2 linked regions of the Homo sapiens genome follow. The protein of the gene in region 2 interacts with the protein of the main gene of each other region in a biochemical or structural test. Each region holds a gene or a part of one and is shown on either strand. Other genes may lie near its edges. The genes, in order: DYRK1A and LIN52.

Region 1 (8,167 bases), on a different chromosome or scaffold from region 2:
GTGTGTTTAGTATGTCTGATCCCATTTGGTTTGGATTTTAAATACACAGACACTGTGTACATACACACACACACACCTGTCTATGCACTTAAAAATAATGGAATCATACATAGTTTTCTAACACAATACATACTAAAAGTATAATATATATAATTGTGTGTGTATATATACACATGCATACATTTCTGGTAGGAAAAACTGAACAGTTATTATTATGGAACATGAGAAGGGGGAAATGATCTGCTATCATTCCACAGAGCTTGTTTTTTTAAACTATATACTACTTGTGGATCTCTTTAAAAACTAGAATATCCTAGATGATCAGAACCGTACCTTATATGTTTGATAACACTGCTCAAATACGGGCCCTAACAAATAAGACAGTAAGAAAACAGGGACACTCCCTCTAGTCCAGTAGTTAATCAAGCGCAGGGTCCTAGGCAGAATTACCCACAGTGCCATTACCAACACTCTCAGTGATAGGAAGCCATCGAAGCAAGCTAACACTACCAACCTCTGGCCACCAGAGAATACTCACATGAACCTTCCCATGACCATACCACAAGGTGATATTTCTTAAACATACCCTTAAAAAAAAAATTGAGACGAAGTCTCACTCTGTCGCAGTGGCACGATCTCAGCCCACTGCAACGTCCGCTTCCAGGGTTCCAACAATTATCCTGCCTCTGCCTCCCAAGTACCTGGGACTACAGACACTCACTACTGCACCTGGCTAATTTCTGTATCTGTAGTAGAGATGGGGGTTTCACCATTTTAGCCAGGCTGGTCTCGAACTCCTGACCTCGTGATCCACTCGCCTTGGCCTCCCAAAGTGCTGCGATTACAGGCATGAGCCACTGCGCCTGGCCTAAACATACCCTTCATTTTTCTCAGTAAAGGGCACATGGACTGTGTTCTTCCCTCCTTTCCAAAACATTCTTAGTGCAGGCATCATTCTGATTTCTGGACTGACACCTGCACTAAGCAGCTGTTCTCCCCTTTGACCACTCCCAGTGGAACTCCTCCCAGCACTCAGACTCTCTCTTCTCTCTGCCAAGCCATTCTGTCATTCTGTTCTTCATCTCCTCGTCTGCTTGTGGGGCCTGCGGTTTCAGGTTTATATTGGTATAGGAAGAGGGGGGCTTGGCGGGCCAAAAGGCAACTTTTGGGTGCAAAAACAGGCATGCCTGTTCCAATTTAGGGCTATGGGTTTTCAGGCTAGATCTAATAATAATAACTGATACAAATAAAGTGTTAACCTCATAACAGGTAAAGAATATTCCTCCAGGGCTGGGTGTGGTGGCTCACACCTATAATCTCAACACTTCGGGAGGCCAAGGTCAGGAGTTGGAGACCAGTCTGACCAACATAGTGAAATCCCGTCTCTACTAAAAATAACAAAAAATTAGTCGGGTATGTGACAGGCACCTGTAATTCCAGCTACTCGGGAGGCTGAGGCAGGAGAATTGCTGGAACCCGGAAGGCGGAGGTTGCAGTGAGCCGAAATTGTGCCACTGCACTCCAGCCTGGGTGACAAAAGTGAAACTCCATCTCAAAAAAAAAAAAAAAAAAAAAAAGTAATATTCCTCTAGGAATATTCTAATTTTAAAATTTTAAACTAGAGAATTCCAGATTTTATCTTAATCTAATGAAATGAATTCCAACAGTGAAAATTACAAGCAACCTAAAAGGAAAGTAGTAATTTGAGGACAAGAACTACCTTTGTTCCTTCTAATCATGTCAAGTAAGTAGCTGCCTATACATCTATTCTAATGCTGTATATACATTGCCCACAATAGTGCTGATACTAACAAAACCTTACTTAAAACCTTCAGCTTTTCACCTTTAAATATTCACTTAACCTTTAAACATTCACTTGAGTATTTAAATATTCACATTATTTTTCTATAGGGCAAAAAGGACAACTGGGCCAACCATTCACTAGACATAAGCTCCCACATTAAAAGCCACATACTTACTTTAAGATGATAACTATTCCTATAAAATCCCACTGCACTCTGTACACCTTGTCCTTTATTCCCTCTTCTGTAGAAAGAACAAAGAACGAAGAGTCAGGAAAAACAATGCTAGTCCCAGGCCTGCTTATTCTGAGGCACTGATTAGTCACTCAGCTTCTCTGCACCCACTTCCTTCTCTAATATGTGAGAAATGAACTTTATTGGTGTTTCTCAAAATGTTCCTACTGCATCAGGATTACCTGGAGTCCTTAAGAAAACAGATTCCAGCTAGGCCCAGTGGCTCAAGCCTGTAATCCCAGCACTTTGGGAGGCCAAGGCAGGCGGATCACGAGGTCAGGAGATTGAGACCATCCTGGCTAACACAGTGAAACCCCGTCTCTACTAAAAATACAAAAAAATTAGCCAGGCGTGGTGACAGGCGCCTGTGGTCCCAGCTACTTGGGAGGCTGAGGCACAAGAATGGCGTGAACCCAGGAGGCGGAGCTTGCAGTAAACCGAGATCGCACCACTGTACTCCAGCCTGGGCGACAGAGCGAGACTCTGTCTCAAAAAAAAAGAAAGCAGATTCCAGAGCATCACTCTAAACCTACAGAAAGAGAGGCATCTGAGCTTGGAAATCTCTTAACTTTGACAAGTTCTCCAGAAGACTGTTTGGGAACCATTAGTTTTCCCAAGTCTGTACTAGAGCTAATAATATTTCATAGTTTAAGGGAATCTTAGATATTTATATTTCTCTTTTTTCAAATCCACAGGAATTCAAGAGGAACATACTAGATAGTAAATGTACGTTTAAATATCTCTGCTATCATCCTTCTTGCAGTGTTCGGTGACTCAAATCTTTATGACATCCTGACAACATGCGAGTGTTATTGTAGCATTGTTTGCTGAGGGTATGAGCAAGAAGACATTCAGTTGGTCCAGTGGACTATTAACACTAAATGCAAAAGCTCAGATTTCAAATATTGCTTACGTGATACAAGCACAGCAATCAAGAACCATGTTTCTATCAGAAAATAAAGCGTCAGTAAAATAACTGTTATTAGACCCAAAATCCCTTCACTACTAAAAGTATAGCTACATTTTTCTAATCTGACCACTTACTTATATTTTGCATAACGGTCTATTTGAATTCACATACCATAGTTTAAAAAATTAATGATTAAATACAGAAAATAAACTTATTAACTAATGCAATCCATTGTATTTTCAAAGTCTATTTCTGGAAGCTTCTCCCAAAACATTTTGAAGTGTAACAGGCAATGTTTAATCATCCCCCATTCTCCCCTTCTTCAGTAGACCCAAATTTTCAGCCAAATAGTCACCTATCAAAGACCACATATCCCAGACTCCTTTGTATCTAAACATGGCCACATGACTAAGTTATGACCAATAGGGTATGAAGAAAAATCATGTATGCAACTTCCAGGTTTGTCTTTAAAGGGATGGAATGTGCCTTCCCAAAATCCTATTCCTGGACTGTGGATGTAGTGAGAAACTGCCTTGTACTATGAAGAAAATGGTAAGCACAGGAAAGCAACAAGACAGAAGGAACCAAGCTCCCTCACATCGTGGTGCCACCATATCAGCCTTAGATAAGTTATACTGTTGTTTTATGAAGGAAAAATAAATTTCTCGTTTAAGCCACTGTATTTAGTCAGAAACAGGCCCATCTACATTCTAACTGGTACATATAAGAAAGCTTAAATTTATCGTAACTCTTAAATATTAGCTACCAACCAACTCAGCAAAGCTAAAATTCTATACTCTTAAGTCACAATAGAGCTTCCTACTGAATAACCCCATTACTGAGATTATTGCTACTGTGCCATTTTATATTTATATGGCATTTTACACTTCAGCACTTCATTATAGTGTCTCATTTCACATTCTCAAAATCCTGGGCAGGGCAGCCGGTGCTATCTATATCTGGCATACAGGATACTGAAGCGAGGAGAAGCTGTTTTGCCCAAGATGACATGGCTAAGGAGTGGTAGTCAGGAAGGATTCAACATACAGGTTCCGCATTCTATCATTCTATGAATCTAAACCCCCTATGTGCCAGGCACTGGAGTTACAGCCATGATCAAGAAAAACTTCTTCCTGTCCAAATGGACTTTAAAATTTAATGGAGAAATTAAATTTACAATTATATTAAATGAAATTTAATGAACAATTATATATAAGAACATATATGAATAATCATATTTGCAGTAAGGGTTGCAAAGAAAAACAAATGGTCCTGCTTGGCCAAAAAAAAGAATGCATGGCCAAGGAAGACTACCTGGTTTGGGGAAGGCCTCTCTGAAGAAAATATTTATGCTAGGATCACAGAATGAGCATGAATGAAGATGAGGAGAGAAAAAAGGAGGAGAAAGAAATCCATGAAGAAATGTACATGCATTATCTCAATTTTCACAAGATTCCTATGCTAATTACTATCAACCTCATTTTACAGATGAGGGAACTGATGTTTGGTGAAATCACTGTACCTAAAGTCACACAGCCAACAGAACCTGTTGAGACTCAGATCAGCCAGATTCTGGAGCCTCTGTTCATGGTTTCATGGGCAGGGGATCTTTCCACAGTATCATGCTGCCTCAACTGCTGTCTATAACTGGATAGCAAGCAGACAGACAGATGTCACAGTTCAAACCTTTTTTTTTTTTTTTGAGACAGTGCTCCACTCTGTCACCCAGGCTGGAGTGCAGTGACACAATCTCAGCTCACTGCAACCCCCCACCTCCCAGGCTCAACTGATCCTCCCACCTCAGTCTCCTGAGTAGCCTGGACTACAGGTGGCACTAACACACCTGTTTTTTTTTTGTTTTGTTTTGTTTTTTGAGACAGGGTTTCACCATGTTGCCCAGGCTGGTTTCGAACTCCTGGCCTCAAGTGATCCGCCCACCCTGGCCTCCCAAAGTGCTGAGATTACAGGTGTGAGCCACCACGCCAGGCCTCAAGCATCTTTTTACCCAAATACATGGGTGCCAAGATGCAAGCCTTAACCATACATGTCCATAACATTTTACGGACATGCAAAAGCTTTTGTGAAAAACCCAGAAGAGAAAATGCATAGCTCTGGTAGAAGAACCAACTGCCAAGATGTCGAAATGGCTCTATATTATCAAATAATATAGATAATGATAATACGGAAAAGCTTTTTGTGAAAGCTTTTTTAAAAATTAAAAAATCAAATCTTGTCATTGGAAATGTTATACACTCAAGAAAAATTAGGGGGTTATTTAATGAACAGGGATGTTATTTAAAATAGAGTTGATGCTGAAAGCCAGTTTCATTCTATGTTAAGCCAGTTCACTGGGCCCCCCCCAAAAATCAATTAAAACAAACTTTTCTAACATGGGGAGATAAAACAAGAATATTCACTGACAAGAACAAAGACACATTTTAAGCTATTACTCACTATGTATCAGATATGAGCATCTGCCCCAAACCAAAAAAAAATTATGTAACTTGTCAAAACCTAGTTTTAACAGTAATACAAACTTTTAAATATCGCTTTCTAGAAGAGAAGATACATAGCTCTGGTATAAGAACCAATTGCCAAGACACCAAAATGGTTCTACATTAGCAAAACATATATGCCCAAAAGAAACCACACCATTTCACGTGTTCAACGTAGGGTATTATCACCAATAAACAATTCTCACTCGTTTTAGTACTCTGGAAGTAGGATTTCAAAGCAAAAGCTTAACTTTTTAAATACCTAGCTGGCTTACGCAGTGCAATATTTCCAAATCATTTTGTTTCCATATAAAAAAATAATAATCAAACTAAGGCTGCTGGTAGCCAGTATTAACAAATAAGATCTTTCTTCAATTACCCAATATGAACGAACCTTCAATGATTATTTTAGTCACATGAAGTCTACATTTCACTTTCAAACACTCTATGGTAAACTTTACAACTCTAGCTTAAAATTGTAGCACTGACATAAGGCAAGATTTCAAAAAGCTTTCTTCATTTGGGAGCAACTGAGGAGAAATTTTAGGTAATTTAATATAATTTGCTGATTTTTCCAAGTAATTAAACACAAATTTTAACTCTCCAAACTTTTTAATCCAAAGTTGAGCAAGCTTTGGGTCATAAATTACCACCTCTCTAGCCATCAGAAAATTGCCCAACAGTCAAGATAACATCTGGTAAAAAGTCTTTTAAAAGGCAAAACCACCATATATACATAAGGTGCTATTACACTGGTCACACAATTCACTTTCACAGAGCAAACTGTTAGTATCAAGTTTCAGGAAACATTACTAATAGTTTCACGTAATATCTTTACTTCTAAATCGAAAATAGACGAACATATATGGAGGTAAAATCACCAAAACACTCAACAGAAAGTAAAGATTCTTGGTTCAGTTTAAATAACTGCTTATGATTACTACAAAATAAGACTAACACAACTTTGGGGATGAGGAACTAAATTCTTGATAAAGACTTTCTGGAAGTTTTTGGGTTTTGCTGGGTTTAGATAAGTTTTTTCTTGGGGAGGGGTGAAACTGCTTCCTGTGTGTGTACAGGAAACGTGAAAGCCTTCTCAAATATGAGGAAAGCTAATGCCAAAGCAAAGACAAACTGGCACACGCCTAATCACAAATACCAAGAAAGTCACAAGTGAAGCCCACTCTTCTACTAATCTTGTGTTCAGTGGCACAAGATTATAAGGCAATTCCCTTCTCGCCTATAATACAGTTAATTCTATCCACATTTTCTTCTCATAACTAGATACTTGTCAACCATAAACAGACACACGAAAACACCTCAGGGCAGCCTAAATTTCCAAGCTATTTCTTAAAAAAAAAAAAAAGGTTTTCAAGTGAAAACAAAGATTCAATCCAAATTAACACTTCGTGTAGTTACAAAACAAAATGCATGCCAAAGGTCACTGTATACCATGTTTATAACAAGGTATCTTGAATTTTCCTTTTGCAGATAGTCATAGCCCTCTAAAAACCTAATGTAAATTACCTAAATACATTGTTGCAGTTACCTAGGCCTCTCCACCCCCATATCTTTAAGTCATAAACAGTAACTCTCCATAAGTAACACGAAGGAGCAAACATCAGACAATATTTTGGAGGGGAAAAAAAATTTAACAAATGGTCGTTTTTACTGTCCACATTCCCTAACAAGACATTACACTAATATGGAATGTTTTAAATTATCTTAAATGTTACTGCCTCTAAAAAACTGGACTTATTTTTAGATATCTTGCACACAATAATGTGTTAAGTTTCTAATAGGTTCCACCAAAATATTGTTAAAAGGTTTAAGAGATGATCTTATACTTAGATCTCAAAACAAAGATCTCACTAGGTCATTTAGTCCATTTCCCACCCCTACCAATAATTACCATTCATTCAGGTCTATTCCTTCAAATATTTTTTCAACACCCACCAGGTAAAAAGGAGTGTGCCTTCATGGCGCAAACACAAGGGGTGACCCTTCCTCCTGCAATAATCTCTGAGCTTATGCCTCTCGAGGTAAAAATGAACTTTTTACAAGAGAACTTTTTACTAGTCTTAACAAGAGAACTAGGTGTAGACATTGACAGAAATCCTTAACTTTCTGGCATGGTTTGAAGTATAAATAAATTTGGACAGCTACCATAAACACCACTGCTATACCAGGGAAAATCCTCCAAAGTACTGGGATACCTGAAGTATGCGTAAAAAATCTTGACTATAATCAAGTAAGCTTTTTTCATAACCAGTTTCTTTGAAATGATCTTCTGCAGCTTAAAACCTTAACACATGAAACTTTAGTTCTGGTCTCACATTTTTAAAAGTCTACTTGAAAACAATATTATCCTAAAGTAACTGATCAAGACATGAGAAATTAAACAACACAAAAGCTAAAGGTAATTCCCCTGAGTTATTAAAACACCTCAAAATCAAAATGCTAAATATATTCATTAATACTTTGGACACATAAACTATAAAAGGGTCACAGAGGAACCCTTAAGCATTCAAAGAATAACTAAAAATAACTTTACACAAAACTTTCTTATGACTCATCAATACTCAAAAAATGACTATAATCAAAATTGTTTGAAGTACAAAACACATCAAGGAATATCTTTAATTCCTTTCATTCAAAAATTGACTACATAGTTTTCTTGGGGGGGGAAAGGCCTGAAAAGTTTATTAACAGGCCTCATCACCATT
Region 2 (8,167 bases):
CCTCCTGTAAAGCAGCAGCTAAGGAGACTCCACGGCTTACCATGACTGACAAGAAGGCCAAGGAAGGAAGCAAGACTGAGAACAGTGGTTGTTTTTTGTTTTTGTTTTTGTTTTTTGTTTTTTGAGACAGAGTCTCACTCCGTTGACCAGGCTGGATTACAGTCGCATGATCTCGGCTCACTGCAACCTCTGCCTCCTGGGTTCAAGCGATTCTCCTGCCTCAGCCTCCCGAGTAGCTGGGACTACAGGCACATGCCCCCACGCCCAGCTAATTTTTGTATTTTTAGTAGAGATGAGGTTTCACCATGTTGGCCAGGCTGGTCTCGAACTCCTGACCCCTCAGGTAGTCCGCCTGCCTTGGCCTCCCAAAGTGCTGGGATTACAGGCATGAGCCACCATGCCCAGCCAACAGTGGTCATATTAATTTGAAGGTGGAGGGGTAGGATAGTTCAGTGGTGCAGTCTAAGATTAAGAGGCATACACCACTTGGTAGACTAATGAAAGCTCGTTGTGAACAACAGTATATCAATGAGGCAGATCAGATTCCAATTTGATGGGCAGCCAATTAATGAGACAGACACACCTGCACAGTTGGAAATGAGGATACAATTGATATGTTCCAGCAGCAGACAGGAGGTGTCTACTACAAAGGGAACCTGCTCTTTACTGCAGAACTCCATTCCCACAGACCAGGAATACATTCTCAGAAAACTACAACTCCGTTGAATTCCATCCTGACTACAAAAGTGTAGGGTTTTTTTTGTCCTTTCGTGTACCCCTTTCTCATTCCTTTACTGTGCATAAAGTGACTGGCATTTGTGCACAAGCATATTACCTTTTTATTTTTAAACTAAATGGCCAATGATATGTTTTGATCAACATCAGATGGAGATAAGATGGGGATAAATACTGATTCTGTGGCAATGCCCCCTTTCTCCATTAGTGGCATGCTCATTCAGCTCTTATCTTTATACTTCATTAAGTTATTTTGCCTCATCATTTAATAAAAATCAATAACAAAAAATCCTTCCATGCTTGAAGCTAGTAGTTCAAGATCCTGTCTCCACAAAAAAAAAAAAAAGAAAAAAATTAGCCAGGTATTGCATGCCTGTAGTCACAACTACTTAGGAGGCTGAGGCAGGAGGATCACTTGAGTCCAGGAGGTTGAGGCTGCAGTGAGCTATGGCTGCACCACTGCACTCCAGCCTGGGTGACAGAACGAGACCTTGTCTCTTATAAAAAAAAAAAAAATCCTTCCATACCTTGTTAAATTTGAGAATTTTGGTGTTTTTCACGTGTCATTCTAAAACCAACCAGTTTTTAAACTCTTGTACATAGCTGTTACATGTAGGGCAATATGTCTTTAAGTAGGGATAAGTTACTCTAAAAGAAATGAATCTTAGATAGTTTTCCCACCAGGCATCCTATTGCTTAAGTAAACTTTCTGTTTGAAATGAAACAAATAGTTTTACAGTAGCTAGCATTTATTGAATGCCTGTGTGACTTTGTATTAATCCTACCTTGAATGAATGAGGAAAGGAGCTCAGAAAAATAACTTGGTAATTTGCCTATGTGGCCCAGGGTCAATGTAAGAGCTGAAGTCCTGCTCTTTTCACAATATTACATTGTCTCCTTTGTTTCCTGGCCACTCATATTACAATCTCCTAAAAGCAACCTGTTATTGCTCTTCTGAATATGAGAAACCCAGTGGAAAGTAATTTGTCCCCGCTTCACAAACATTTTTAATTATGTTGAGGCATAGAAATATTTAAAGTAGTTTGCATTGGAATTGAAAAACTGAACTATGAGTTTCTTCCACTTCATTAAAAAGTTTCTTAAAATTTACATTGTTCCCTACATAAAAGCTGAGCAGAATTTTATCAGGCAATTGCCTCAAAGTTATAATCTGGACAATCTTTCTGTAATAAAACCCATATGTCATTGGGGAAAGGTGCAGAGCCCTGGCAGAGAGGGCTGGTCTTGAGAGAGGTTCTGCACCCAATCTCGTTAACCAGGGTGCCTCTGGTAATCCCTCATCCCTCACCAGTGAGAAATCAATCTGTACCACTGAATCTTTTTCAACCAGCCACCAGAAAAATTTACTGCAGAGAAGGCAGTTTGGGGATAGTTATCGTGGAAAGTGAGCCAGAAGCAAGGCTAAATGTAGGATGGAGGAATTGGAGAGTCTAAAGAAGAGATTATATTAAACCACACACCACTTTCAGAGCAGGCACAGTGGAGTCCTCCTTTCAGCCCTGACCTCTCCAAGTATACCCAGGTATTTACAGCTGCCATGAACTGGATAGCCCTGGAGGAACTACGAAAGTGGTGGGGGATAACAGAAACAGTGGAAACCTGAAAGTTGATTGTAGTCTATCCATTTGCTGTCTCTCAGTGTGTAGTAGCCAGTCCCCTCTCCACACTCTGCAGCATTTCACATGTTAACCCTATAGTGACAGTTTCAATTGTGGCTTTCTCAATTTGTGATCTATGTACGACATAATAGGGCCTGTAAATCATGACTTGACATAGGGGTCATGCTTCTCTCCTGCACGGCATACACCAGTAGCTGATGACCAGTGGGCCCCTCTTGGCATAGTTATTAGAATGGAAGCGGTGTTGCCTTCCTGTGAAACCTTGTAATCTTAGAGAATAAATCCAGAATCAAAAAAATAGTTGACAGGCTGGGCGAGGTGGCTCATGCCTATAATCCTAGCACTTTGGGAGGCCAAGGCGGGCAGATCAACTGAGGTCAGGAGTCCGAGACCAGCCTGGCCAACATGGTGAAAACCTGTCTGTACCAAAAATACAAAGAATTAGCCAAGTGTGGTGGTGCATGCTTGTAATCCCAGCTACTTGAGAGACTGTGGCAGGAGAATCACTTGAACCGGGGAGGCAGAGGTTGCAGTGAGCTGAGATTGCAACATTGCACTCCAACCTGGGCAACAAGAGCGAGACTCTGTTTCAAAAAAAAAGAAAATAGTTGACAGATTTCACTGACTCTATATAACACTCTCTCTCTCCCAATCTTGTTGTGTCTAGAATTGTTTTCTATATAATATAATACATTATGGGGAACAAAGAAAAAGGAGAAAATGGAGGAACTGGGAGTGCCAAGCTGAAGAACATGTAGTCTTACTCTGGCCATTCATCCTAGAATTATACCAAGCTACAACCATTGTGAAGAAGAAGGGACAGAACCAGGCAGTGGGGAATAGAAATGGCTTTCTCTTCTCTGTAAGCAGGCAGTAGTCATCTCTAAAGATTTTTCCCCAAAGAGATTTGAAATTCCTGATGGGAGCTTAAAAAGCTAAGAGTAAAATACATTTATTTATAAGACCCTACTAGAAGAGGTGTGTGTGGGTGTGTGTGTGTATGTGTGTGTGTGTGTGTGTGCGCGTGTAGACGAGGAATACAGAATAGTAGCAGAAGGCTGTCTCCCTACTCCTAATGGGATTTTGTAGCAGTATGTGCAAGTTTGTTTCAGAAGTCAAAAATGAACAGATGTTAGTATAAATTACCTCTGTGTCTGATGTCTTGCAAATTAAAAGCGCAGTTGGCATCACTAAACAATTTCACTAGGTTTGGGGGGGTTCGGTTAGCGGGCGGTGATTACTGTAGCAGGTCGGTAAGAATCTTCGCCCTGCAGCAGAGCAAGGATAAAGAAATGAGGAATAAAATAAGGGCTATATGAATTAATCAGAAATGTTAACATCTCTGATGACAAGTGAACAGGAGGGCACGTGCTCTGGAGCAGCCCCTGACCCACAGCAATTTCTCTGTGCACAAAAAGGGGTTGGTGCTTAGCATCTGATTTATAGGGCACAGCCCTCTTTTAGGGAGCGGCTGTGTCATACATTCGTATATCTCCTGTATGGGACTGGCGAGTAGGAAAACTTTCTCTCCTCCCATGTAGGAGATGATGTCTTTTGAATTACTTCTACTTTTACAGTGGTTTCCTGCAGCTCTGTGTACTTGGATTAGGTTGAAGGGGGAGGAATGATTGAGTAGAAAAAGGGTTGTTAAAAAGGATTGGTTAAATTCAAGGAGAGCTTGCCACTGAGAGACTTCAGAATATCTATTTATTTTTCCTTTTAAACCCTTTTGACCCCTTAAATTGTGTGGATCTTTTAAAATTCTAAGTCTTAAAATATTGGTCATTTTCCCATTTGGGGAAAAACAGTAAGGAGTTGGTGAGTCTGAAGGTCAGCAGGCAGAAATCATTGGTTAGAGCAATGCAGTGCTCCAGGCCCAGGATTTTTGGAACAAGGCTCTATTCTCTCCAGAAGACTTTTGTATTGACCGTGTCTGGTTTCCAGAGCTCCTGCTTCTAGCCATGTTGCAGGATCATTAGTTACATGTTTAAACTTGAGAGTAGACAGATAACCCATCTAGTAGAAATAAGTGAGACCCAATCTGCCCAAAAGTATAAGTAAATTTCTTTTCCTTCAAGCTGAGGGAAAAGATTCCAAGGAACGGAGTTTTGTTTGCTAGCCTCCCTTTGTGCAGTTTGTTCATTCATTCATTCATTCATTCACTCACTCAGAAAATACTAAGTGCGAGAGAACTTACCCCCCTCTGGAAAGTGTTGTGTTAATGATTAGCACTATACCAAGCATGTTCATTGCTAATATCCAAGAGAAAAGTAGGGTATTAACATGCTCTCCGTTACAAATGAAGAGACTGAGGCTCAGAGATCTGCCCAGCCCAAGGTGTCACCCTGCTGCTAAGTGCTAGAGCTGAAACTTAAACTGAGTTCAAATCCTGTGTTCTCTGCAAGAAGCCCATGCTACCTCCTATGGGCAAGACAGTACTTGATTGGATTTTCTCTAGAGTAGTTAGTCCTTGACCCCAGTCTCTCCATGAACTTGGCATTATTTGCATTAAGGGAAATGATTTTCTTGCCAAATAAGCAAGGCACATTTAAAAAGACTCCCATCATGTAGAGAATGGAGCACTGAGGGCCACTAACTAGTCATATTTGTTAATGGAAAGGAAGGAAACTAACATTTTTTGCATTTCTACTTGGTTCTAGTTCTTTGGTGTATTATAATTTATCCAGTCAACACTTACTCAGCAGACACTAGGTCTGCTGAGTCTGTAGCAGGTCGGTAAGAATCTTCGCAGTGCAGCAGAGCAAGGATAAAGAAATGAGGAATAAAATAAGGGCTATATGAATTAATCAGAAATGTTAACATCTCTGATGACAAGTGAACAGGAGAGCACGTGCTCTGGAGTTTGGATCTGATTGTGGATCTTTTGCCAAGGGAGAGAAGACCAAAGCTCTTAACAGTCTCTGCCTTCAGTTTTTACATTTTAGTGGAGGAAGACAACCATATAAGCTAGTAATTGCATGCAAGTCTTATGGGAACTTTCTTGTACAGGATTTGCTGTAAATCCATGAAGGAAGGAATGGTCTGTTTGATTTGGTCTGGGTTGGGGTTGTGAGCACATGAGGCAAGACCCAACACTGGGCTTCTATGCCTAGTTAATGGAATTTCCTTTCCCTTTGTTGGGGCACAGGAACTAGTGAAAGATGGGGAATGTATAGACTGAAGTTACAAAAGCCTCCCTGTGGTCCCAGAGGTTGTGTAGTTTTTATTTCTTCATTGTACAAGAAAACAAGAAACTGTTAAACTTAAATTGGGGCAGAGGGGAGCTGGAGGCCATTCATCTAGCTCCATTTGCTCTGGACTTGGGAAAGGCAACAAGGAGGCCAGGGTGAAGGTCCTTCTCATTCCTGAGAGTGCCTCCCTAGCCACCTCACTTCTTTGGCCAGGACGGAGATGTGTTCTTGGGAGACCACACAGCCTACCCCGTGCCTACTGCATGGTTCCAGAAGGCCTGGCTTCCAGAGCCAGCCATCAGCGATCAGAAACTTTCTGCACTGTTAAATCCATTTAAGAAATCTGAAAACATGGCCTTGCAGGATGAGGATGAGGATGAGGAAGGGGCTGTTACACTACGTATGCTTTCTGAGATCTAAAATGGGAGACCTCTGGAGTAGCCCTTGTAATTGAGAAATGTTTTACTTTCATTTTGGAGCCTTATATGTAGGAAAGTAGCTGTATAAACCCACTTGTAACTATAGCATTCAAAGATTGATGGTGCTGAAAGCCGGAGAAAGACACATAAACCTTGGCTGGCTATATTAAATAGCTAAGGACTGACAATGCCAAGGGAGAGAAGACCAAAGCTCTATAAACCCTACTTTATGACACCATCCACAGATGAACTGCACTGAGGGAATATAAACCCTGTTATATTACAGTATCCAGGGACTAACACTGCTGAGAGATAGGGTAAATGATCTCTAATTTTGATTTGAGATTATAAATGTCCAGAGACCAGCAACCCAGAGAAGACTAATCTTGGTTGGATTTTAGGCTTCAAGAGCAAACCCCCTGAGATAGTGAACATGAGTATTAGGTTAGATTCTAGAGACAGAGATAGGTTTTGGGGGAATCCCCTGGTGATTTGTTTAAAGGTGGATGATAAAATCTTTCCCAGTCATTTGGCATGTATCTCAATTGCCAACTTCAGAATAGCTTTGTACAGTTTTAGTTGTCTATAGTGGTTTGTTTTTACCCCCTTTTAGGTTAGTTGGTGATGATTGAATCTGTTGTGATAGCAACTTGATATATAATTTAAATCAATCTGCATTTTTAAATTAAATCTTCCTATGATTCTTTTTTCCGATTTTAGGTTTTCATTGATCATTTGTTTGCTTTGTGATTCCAGCCAGAGAGATGACACGGGGGAAATTCCTCAATATTCTAGAGAAGCCCAAGAAGTAGCAGCTGCTTGCGGACAGGATGTCCTGGGGTCCGAAACCAAGCTCCCTTCCCGGTGCACCTCTAACAATGCACACCTCACTGCTTGCTTGGGAGAGGCCAGAGGGTGTACCTCCAGGACTGCCCTCTCCCCTGCTCCTGGCACTCTACACGTCTGAGGACATTCAGCAGCAAGAGAAGAATCTGCTCTACCCAAGGATCATTGCAGTTACTCAATCAACTTTCAGACTTGAACCTTCTTAGCCTCGGATATTGGTAACAGCTGAGGGCATATCATTCTTAAAGGTCGAAGTCCTGCTTTCTCATTTCTGGAAGTGATTCAGGAGCCCCAGGATCTTACGGTTGATTTGACTCAGTCATGGCAGTCAGTTGTGACATGTTGATTGGATGGGTTCTTTTGAATTGTTCTTGATCTCTTAGAAAGTGTTTACGATGTGAGGAGACCAGAGACCAAGTAGATTCTGGACCAGACCATGCAGCCTGACCTGTGAACTCTCCAGTATATACTAAGTTCCCAGAATCCCCAGCTGAAGAAACCAGAATCTTCTCGAAATGTATATCTGTTTTTTAAAACTTCTATACCTCTTATGATAGTCCCATTTGCTTTTCATTCCTTACTTCCCAGCCCCACCTTCTAGTTCTGACTTCGGGCAGAGGGATCCCTGAGTCCCTCCTGGAATTAGCTTGTATAGTGAAAGGCCCATCCAAGGTTGTCTAAAGACCAATGTGAAGGTGACAGAAAGGACTTTTGAGTTCTAATTAATCTGTTACAGCTTCAAGCAAGAAAGTCAGTATAGCCTGAAAGACAAGAGAAACGGGATGGTTTATAGGAGTTCCCATTTGGTTGAAAGCTAGAAGCCCTAATTGACCTTAAAGTAACATGCTATGGGATGGTGGGATTGTCCCCTCTGACAGCACATATGAAATAGTTCATCTATATAATAGAAACGCACACACACGAAAAAGAATCTTCTGACTTAAATACAACTTTCATGGAGTTCTTCACCACTTATCTGTCTCTGTTAAAATCTGAAAATCTAGCCCATGGCTAAAATCTATTATATGTGTTCTCCATATTTCTTGTATAAGCCAGTCCCCAGCATCTGATGTTTTGAGAAGTGCATGGAGTTTCCTAAACTTTGCACAAAAGAATATCCTGGGGCCGGGCATGGTGGCTCACGCCTGTAATCCCAGCACTTTGGGAGGCCGAGGCAGGTGGATCATAGGTCAAAAGATCGAGACCATCCTGGCCAATATGGTGAAACCCTGTCTCTACTAAAATACAAAAATTAGCTGGGCATGATGGTGCATGCCTATAGTCCCAGCTACTTGGGGGCCTGAGGCACGAGAATCGCTTGAATTCGGGAGGTGGA

The links.
Region 1: of the proteins of LIN52 (region 2) and DYRK1A, one has a biochemical effect on the other in vitro, tested with the Homo sapiens proteins (3 studies listed by BioGRID).

Annotation. Positions count from the first base shown.
Region 1 is NC_000021.9:37,368,930-37,377,096, reverse strand, and holds part of DYRK1A (dual specificity tyrosine-phosphorylation-regulated kinase 1A), read right to left. Parts: intron 1-8,167. UniProt on the Homo sapiens protein: Dual-specificity kinase which possesses both serine/threonine and tyrosine kinase activities. Exhibits a substrate preference for proline at position P+1 and arginine at position P-3.
Region 2 is NC_000014.9:74,192,181-74,200,347, forward strand, and holds part of LIN52 (protein lin-52 homolog), read left to right. Parts: exon of another isoform or gene 1-87; intron 88-405; exon of another isoform or gene 406-1,097; intron 1,098-6,741; coding exon 6,742-6,797; 3' UTR 6,798-8,167.